Linked DNA regions of Homo sapiens. The protein of the gene in region 2 purifies or fractionates together with the protein of the main gene of each other region. This does not show direct contact. Each region holds a gene or a part of one and is shown on either strand. Other genes may lie near its edges.

Evidence for each region.
Region 1: the proteins of DUS4L (region 2) and GCA purify together in Homo sapiens (affinity purification with mass spectrometry; 2 studies listed by BioGRID and IntAct, with this or other methods). This does not show direct contact.
Region 3: the proteins of DUS4L (region 2) and ULBP2 purify together in Homo sapiens (affinity purification with mass spectrometry; one large-scale study listed by BioGRID and IntAct). This does not show direct contact.

What each region holds. Positions count from the first base shown.
Region 1 is NC_000002.12:162,350,489-162,354,152, reverse strand, and holds part of GCA (grancalcin), read right to left. Parts: intron 1,816-3,664; coding exon 1,746-1,815; intron 742-1,745; exon of another isoform or gene 420-741; intron 1-419. UniProt on the Homo sapiens protein: Calcium-binding protein that may play a role in the adhesion of neutrophils to fibronectin. May play a role in the formation of focal adhesions.
Region 2 is NC_000007.14:107,576,338-107,579,028, forward strand, and holds the end of DUS4L (tRNA-dihydrouridine(20a/20b) synthase [NAD(P)+]-like), read left to right. Parts: intron 1-28; coding exon 29-255; intron 256-975; coding exon 976-1,223; 3' UTR 1,224-2,186; downstream 2,187-2,691. Other genes in the region: DUS4L-BCAP29 protein, read left to right, coding at 29-255. UniProt on the Homo sapiens protein: Catalyzes the synthesis of dihydrouridine, a modified base found in the D-loop of most tRNAs.
Region 3 is NC_000006.12:149,944,931-149,947,455, forward strand, and holds part of ULBP2 (UL16-binding protein 2 preproprotein), read left to right. Parts: intron 1-378; coding exon 379-642; intron 643-1,441; coding exon 1,442-1,723; intron 1,724-2,389; coding exon 2,390-2,499; 3' UTR 2,500-2,521; exon of another isoform or gene 2,522-2,525. UniProt on the Homo sapiens protein: Binds and activates the KLRK1/NKG2D receptor, mediating natural killer cell cytotoxicity.

The DNA.
Region 1 (3,664 bases), on a different chromosome or scaffold from region 2:
AAAGCACCTAACATGAAAGACAACCAAAACAAGCAAAATGAGGAGAAAAAACAATCTGGAAAAAACAAAGGTTATATAGGAAGAAAAAACTTTAAAAATATATTAATAGTCTCAGAGAGATAAGGGACAATATCACATTCATGAAAATAGAACAGAAGCTCTTGGATATTAATGAAAAGCAGAAATGAAAGACTCAATAGAAGGTTTAGGAAATAAAGTTGAGGAAAATTCCCAAAAAGTTCAGCAAAAAAAAATGATAGGAGGAAAAAGATGATAAAAGTAGAAAACCCAGTGAAAACAAAAAGCATTCCAAGAAACAGAAAATATCATTGAAGAAAACGTCCTACATCTAAAGCAAAGGAGTTTCCAGGCTGAGAATACCATCTGAGTTCCCCACACAACACAACTAGGTACTTTACCATCAAATCGCAGAATACTAAAGACAAAGATCTCACAAGTTTCCAGAGAGGAATAACAAATCACATCACATCCAGGCAGGAAAGAGAAAGATAATGCAACAAGGGACGCTAGAAACAATGGAGCAATACCTTTAAAATTCTACTTGAGAATCATTTGTAACCTAGAATTCTATACCTGGCCAATCAATTCTGAAGGTAGAATGAAAGCATTTTTAGATACATAAGCTCTCAAAAATTTATCTCCCATATATTCTTTTGTTTGTTTTTGAGATGATGTCTCACTCTGTCACCAGGCTGGAGTGCAGTGGCCCAATCTCAGCTCACTGGAACCTCTGCCTCCTGGGTTCAAGTAATTCTCCTGCCTCAGTCTCCCGAGTAGCTGGGACTACAGGTGCGTGCCACCACGCCCAGTTAATTTTTGTATTTTTAGTAGAGACGGGGTTTCACCATGGTGGCCAGGGTGCTCTCGATCTCTTAACCTCATGATTCGCCCACCTCAGCCTCCCAAAGTGCTGGGATTGCAGGCATGAGCCACGGCGCCTGGCCGTATTTTTTTTTTATATTAAGAAGCTGCTTAACTATACATTTCACTAAAATAAGATAATGAATTTTTTAAAAGAGGACAACAAGAGATGGAGTAAAAAGGAGATCTAACTCAAGAGAAACGGGGAAACCAGCTTCAGAATGATGGTGAAAGAATCCCAGTATGACAGCTACACATAAAAAACTGCATATCCCAGAGTTCTAGGATAATACCTGACAACTAGTGATTTCAAGAAAAGCAAAACATTATATAAAAAGGAAAAGTAATCATACATTATCATAAGATACAGCTATAAGCAGCATTCAGATAGTAAAAATAAGGTAAAGACTAACATACCTAACAAAAGTTACTATATATTATAACTACATTGGAAGGACAGGAGGATGGGAAATGTTCCTCTGTGGAGTGCAGAGACAGGGGAGAGTTTAAGGTTAAAATAAAGTGAAATCCTCATCTTTCATAGCAGGATATCAATAGATAATCATAAAATCCAAAAATCAATCGTGAAAAAAATATTCTATCTTGAAATCTGGAAGCAAATTTCAAAAGAATCAGATTTTTAAAAGTCAAAAGAAGTGTCCTCTATGAGCAGTTAATGTTAAGGAGACAGGAATACACAATGAACAGTTATTTTCATAACGAGTTTTACAGTTATTTGACTCCTTAAACTATGTGCATGTATAACTGTGATAATTTTTTAAACATTTTAATTACAGGGACAAAAAAAGTAAGAAAATAAACTTCCTATTATAATTTCAACAAAAGGGGAAAAAAGATCTCACGAGAGTAAGTTCCATTAATTCCAGACTGTGTCAAACATCTCTGAAGTTCTTCAGCATCCACTTCACCATCCTGTTTAAAAATAATTATGACCTAATTTAATGTGCAGTTGTATAAAAGCATATTAAAATGTCAATTGACTGTTCTAGGCCAATCAAGACATATGCATTCTTTGAAACATTACTCTATAATTAACTACAAAATTCTAGAGATAATTACTGACAACAAAGGCATATTACAAAATATCATACCACAGAAATAATTTCTTCCACTTCTGAAGAATAGCACAATTACCCTGTTCTATAATGGTTCAAGACAATCTCATAAGAGTCATTGTACTTCTATTTTAAACAGTTAGAAAAACAGTTAAACAGTTAGAAAAATGCCTAAAATGTGTTCAGAAAAGTCTCGAAAACATCCCCACTCATGCTGTTTTGGGAGGAGATTATTTATAAATAATACTGAAGCTTTAACTGGAAGGGGAAAATATATTTTCCCCCACCATTACCCCTAGCAAAATTCTAGAGTCCCCCTGTATCTTGCTGCTATTCTTCTGATTACTGCCCAAACAAGTCTTGCCTGAACTTACTACAGAAAATAAAGTTTTAAAATGCAAACAAGAAATCACAATGGAAATGAAATAGGTTGAGTATTCTCATTATGATTTAGTACCTCATCCTGTTTTTGACAAAAATAAGTAATTCCTTTGGAACCATCACAAACATTGGCACAAATGCAAAATGTAGCTATGATGAAGGATCAAGGAGGCAAATTTAAAACCTACTCTTCATAAGAGATCCAAGAAACAACAAAACAAAAAACTTTTCTAAACTACTTCTAAGAAATATTATTAACACTCACATTCTAATGGATTTTTGGCAAAAGAACCCCTTACAAAACTGCAGCTGTTCTAATAGAAATTACAAAATACTAAGCAGCATTCTTCCCTTAACTGAATTAGGTAGCATTAGCGGTAGAAAGCTGAATGTCCTAATTAAATTACAAGAGCATCAGGTAGAGAATTAACAAAAATCAATTGCCCTTCGTTAGGCAGCAAGATTTTAAAATGATATCCAACTTCAAGTCCTATTTGTTCAGTTACTCAATTTGAGTCTCCACTTACTTATCTATAATACAAAGGTAGCTGTGTCATGCCCACATCACAGTTGCTGTGTGGAAAAGTAGAAGCAGTGTGCATACAAAAGTTAAAGTTGTTGGTATTACTGTGATGCATGTGTCTGTATGTATGAAGACAGAAACCAGAATTTCCCCAAATTAATTGATGATTTAATCCTTACTGTTTAGAATACTTCATCCTATAAATAAGAACACTGCAGAAACCTTTAATCAGGTGTTTTTCATAGAGCATTATTAATTATGAGGCCCATCAAAAAAGGATATGGCTGTAGATGTAAGTTCAGTAGTTGGGTTCCAGGAGCAGTATACCTAAGTCAGATGTTGCACCTGATCCCTCAAAGCTAGGTAGAACTCAATATATGAAAAAATACAGTCTAAATATTTAGACTAAAAATTGAAAATGGGATAGTTAATTCATCCATACGAAACATTTATCAAATGTTTATATATTCCTAATATCTACCTGTCAAGTAGGGAAAATATGACCAGAACCCTGTCTTTATGGAGTTTATTTATTCAAAAGCACAAGACTGGGAAATTTAAGGAAAGTATCAAATAGTTCAAACATAGCGAATTTATTGCTGACAATTAAAATGCTGAAATAGTTCAGCAGTCAAAAAGAGTTTCCAAATATATGTCCAGTTCATATACTTTAAGTTGTAATTTTATATGATGAATGTATTATATAGTCAAACAGAGATAATAGAATTATTCTCAGTATAATACTACTTATTCCCAGTATAATCCTTTAAAATGGCAATGGTATAATGAGTAGAACAGTTAA
Region 2 (2,691 bases):
ACAGATAAATGTAATTTTGAAATTGTAGGATCCATGATGACCTTAAAAGAACTGTAGATCTTTGTCAAAAGGCTGAAGCAACAGGAGTTTCATGGATTACAGTCCATGGAAGAACTGCTGAAGAAAGACATCAGCCAGTGCACTATGATTCCATTAAAATAATTAAGGAAAATATGTCTATACCTGTAATTGCTAATGGAGACATCAGAAGCTTAAAGGAAGCAGAAAATGTGTGGCGGATTACTGGGACAGATGGTAAGAAATAAGTACTTGGGTTCTTTTAATTGGGGGGGGAAGAAATGAGAGTGGGGAAGTAATGTTAATTTGATTTTCATTTGTTTTGTTTAACATTAAGCCATATTTTCCCATTGTACTGTTTTAAGCTAAGCGATTTATTAAAATGATGTTAAGTTTTCTACCTAGAAAAACATGGATTATCTTAACTGGGATAAATTAATTCAGTTACTTTTCTGACACCATCATATCTAGTGACCAGTGAAGAATTTTCCAGATAGCCTACTAGTAAAATAAAGCACCTAGAAATAAGAGTAAGTGAACTCGAGAATGATAAGAGCTAAAGGAATCCCAGAACTGCTATGCAGTTTCATTATTCCCTTAAATTATTGGCATGCCAAGCCCTATAATTGCTAGATGGGAGAATATAGATAAACTGAACTTTAAGCAGCCCAATTTATGACAATCCAGATTTACCCTAAAGAAAAACTAAAGACTAATGGTTTAATGTAGAAATCTTTAAAAAATAAAGATTTCTGTACGTACATTTAAACTTTCCTGGTTTACAAAAGGTACCAAAATTAATTCTTTTGTAATCGGATTAAACATATTAATGCAATAAAGACATTACAAAACCTTGTGATAATACTTTTTAAAAATATACTGTTTGCTTCATTGAGCTTGAACTAATAACCAGGGGTTCTTAATGTATGGACAAATATGGTGTGCTTTAATTTGTAGGTGTGATGGTTGCAAGAGGACTCTTAGCAAACCCGGCCATGTTTGCTGGATATGAGGAAACCCCACTGAAATGCATCTGGGACTGGGTTGACATTGCTCTTGAACTCGGGACTCCTTACATGTGTTTCCATCAACATTTAATGTACATGATGGAAAAGATAACTTCAAGGCAGGAAAAAAGGGTATTTAATGCTCTGTCAAGCACATCAGCAATCATAGATTACCTTACAGACCATTATGGCATTTGACTAGACTTCCCAAATAATTTTAATATATACTTTTAGACCCACAGTGAAACCACAGAAGGTCATATTTTGTACCTTAAACCAGTAGCTCTCAAATTTTAGTATAAAAACAATTCCTGGGAGCGTTTTTTAAAAATCAGTTGTAGACACCACCCTCAGAGATTCTGATTAGGTAGATCTGGAGTAGACCCAGAAATACACAGTTTAAAGAAAACTCCCAGTGGTTCAAACATCCTGATCATCCTAGGCAAACATTGACAAATACTGCTCTGAATCCTGTTCTATAGATATTGGGGGGATGGGTAGAGTGGGAATTTTTTCCTAATCATGTTTTTAACATTTTAAAATAAAATTTAATACTAAGAAATTATGGCTTATAGTATCTATAAATTAACAAGAAGTATGCAGGTGCAAAAAAGTGGTGGAACAAATACCAACATCCATCCAAAATGAAAAAGAACAGGAAATTCTGAATAGAATTGCACTCAGAACTTATATTAAAAATTCCATTTGGTTAATGACATTAAATTTGGTACATTTCAAAACTTCTAGGTCCTCCAAAGATTGAAAGCTTAATAATCTCCTACCTAAAAAGATAAAATTAATTGCAATCTACCATATCTTAAGTATAGGAAATTTGGTGTCCAACCTGGAGATGATTATATATTTGAAATATTTCCTAGAGAATAGTAACCAGGTTTTGTTTTTAACTTTAAAACCTAATTACTTTTGTGCCTCTCAGCCGTTGATTGTAACTTTAAAGTCCCATGGTTTTGGAGTGTTATTAATAGATTTTGTTATCGGTGGGCATGCACTGCAAGAATTAAGTATCTCAGACTGAAATAAAACCGTTCATAATTAAAGTATTATTTTGTTTTGCCAACATGAAAACTGTTATAAGGAAACAATTATGTAAAACTGTTTAATTCACGTTTGGGAATATTGAATGAATCCATTTTAACATAAGCACTGTGGTGCCATCTTTTTTCTCAGTACATTCTGTTTTCACTTTTCAGTTAATGCATTTTTTTTTTTAAAGATAACTCGCTGTTTCATTTTCTATGAATACTGTACAAAATAGGGAGGTATGGTCAGAACTCTGAATTGAATTACCCTAGTGTTGTGAGCACAGCATCATCACTAGAGTAATGTGCTCGGTGTTTGGAAGGAACCAGCGTGGATGGGCAAGAAGTTCTAACACTTTTGATTAAAAGTAACTTCCTGGCCGGGCGCGGTGGCTCACGCCTGTGATCCCAGCACTTTGGGAGGCCAAGACGGGCAGATCACGAGGTCAGGAGATCAAGACCATCCTGGATAACACGGTGAAACCCCGTCTCTACTAAAAATACAAAAATTAGCTGGGCGTGGTGGCGGGCGCCTATAGTCCCAGCTACTCAGGAGGCTGAGGCAGGAGAATGGTGTGAACCTGGGAGGTGGAGCTTGCAGTGAGCTGAGATTGCGCCACTGCACT
Region 3 (2,525 bases), on a different chromosome or scaffold from region 2:
TCTCCCACCTCCCGCAGTCCACGTGGGCTACTGCTGAAGATCCTCTGCCATCCAGGCCCTTCCTCCTCTCTTGCTAGAGAGGCCTGGCACCTTTCTAGCAAGGTCACGTGTTGACTGATGTGGGCAGAGGGGCAGTGGGACATGTCTGGGGACATGTGGTTTCTCAGCAGACAGAGACTTCCTCCTCCTCCTCCTCCTTGTCCTCATGCAAGGGGCGAGCACTCGCCTTAAACTTGTAGACACCACAGTTCTGGAGGGGGCACTCCTTCCTGGGCCAGCCCAGCCTGCCAGAGGCATCCTCTTATTGACACAGCGTGGAGGGGGGCTAACTAGGGGTCTTTTCCTCCCCACCCACCCCTCACCTGCCTTTCTCCACAGACCCTCACTCTCTTTGCTATGACATCACCGTCATCCCTAAGTTCAGACCTGGACCACGGTGGTGTGCGGTTCAAGGCCAGGTGGATGAAAAGACTTTTCTTCACTATGACTGTGGCAACAAGACAGTCACACCTGTCAGTCCCCTGGGGAAGAAACTAAATGTCACAACGGCCTGGAAAGCACAGAACCCAGTACTGAGAGAGGTGGTGGACATACTTACAGAGCAACTGCGTGACATTCAGCTGGAGAATTACACACCCAAGGGTAAGTTTCAGATGGCCCAGGACAGCAGGGAACAGATACAGTGGTAGGTTAGAGGCATTTATAGTTTTCATGTAAAAATACAAAAGGGTCCTGGGCACGGTGGCTCACGCCTGTAGTCCCAGCACTTTGTGAGGTAGAGGTGGGCCGATCACAAGGTCAGGAATTCGAGACCAGCCTGACCAACATGGTGAAACACTGTCTCTACCAAAAATGCAAAAATTAGCCAGGCATGGTGGCGCATGCCTGTAATCCCAGCAACTTGGGAGGCTGAGGCAGGAGGATCCCTTGAACCCGGCAGGCAGACGCTGCAGTGAGCCGAGGTGGTGCCACTGCACTCCAGCCTGGGCAACAGAGTGAGACTTTGTCTCAAAAAAAAAAAAAAAAAAAAAGCCAGGTGCAGTGGCTCAAGCCTGTAATCCCAGCATTTTGGGAGGCTGAGGCAGGCGGATCACGAGGTTAAGAGATCGAGACCATCCTGGTTAACACAGTGAAACCCTGTCTGTACTAAAAATACAAAAAATTAGCCGGGTATGGTGGCGGGCGCCTGTAGTCCCAGCTACTTAGGAGGCTGAGTGAGCCGAGATCGCGCCACTGCACTCCATCCAGCCTGGGTGACAGAGCGAGACCCTTTCTCAAAAAAAAAAAAAAAATACAAATGGGAAGGTCATCATACCCCTCAAGAGTCTAGAGGCAAGGCCAAGATGTAGCAGAGAGAGTAAGGCCAGCAAATTGTAAGGGGAACAGGATGGGGGTGCAAAATTTGTCAAGATCAGAGCTGATCTCTCTCTGATGGGGGCAGAACCCCTCACCCTGCAGGCAAGGATGTCTTGTGAGCAGAAAGCTGAAGGACACAGCAGTGGATCTTGGCAGTTCAGTTTCGATGGGCAGATCTTCCTCCTCTTTGACTCAGAGAAGAGAATGTGGACAACGGTTCATCCTGGAGCCAGAAAGATGAAAGAAAAGTGGGAGAATGACAAGGTTGTGGCCATGTCCTTCCATTACTTCTCAATGGGAGACTGTATAGGATGGCTTGAGGACTTCTTGATGGGCATGGACAGCACCCTGGAGCCAAGTGCAGGAGGTAACAGGAGAAAAAGAAACGGGGATCTCAAATGTGATCAGAAATGGTGACCTCAAGAAGTTAGTTCTTGAGTTCAGCTTCAATCATCCCAGTATACACATTCACGTTAAAATGACCTCCTCGTGGGGCGCTCCTCCTGGGGTTACTGGCATGCCTGTGCTCTCCCACCGTCCTCTTCCTTCTCCCTCCTGACTCCTATTCCTCACTGCACTTGCTCCTGCTCCCCGCCCTGTGGATTTCTCACCAGCCTTGAAACTGCAGGTGTCACTGTTTTCAGACCTTTTTCCTTAGTGTTTCCTCTTTTGAGAATCACTTTTCCTTTCCTTTCCCTGGTCTGGTTCTGGAAATCCATCAAAACCACTTCCAACGCCAGCCCAGAGATCCTCCCCTCCCCAACTCTGGGGCATCACCTCCTCTTCCCCCACAGCAGGAGGGTGGGGTGTGTTGTCACCTTGCTTCCCTCAGCAGCTGTGTGAGCTCCCTGAGGACAAGACTCACCCCGTCTCCCTTCCTAAGCCAGGACCTGTCATACTGGCTGCCCCACACCAGGGGGGAGAGGACAAAACTTTTGCCTTCCAGGATGACCTAGGGTGGCAGGAACTGAGGAGGTGTCTCCTCAGATTTGGGGCCTGGACAAGGGTTGTCACTTTTGTGTTTCCATTTCAGCACCACTCGCCATGTCCTCAGGCACAACCCAACTCAGGGCCACAGCCACCACCCTCATCCTTTGCTGCCTCCTCATCATCCTCCCCTGCTTCATCCTCCCTGGCATCTGAGGAGAGTCCTTTAGAGTGACAGGTAC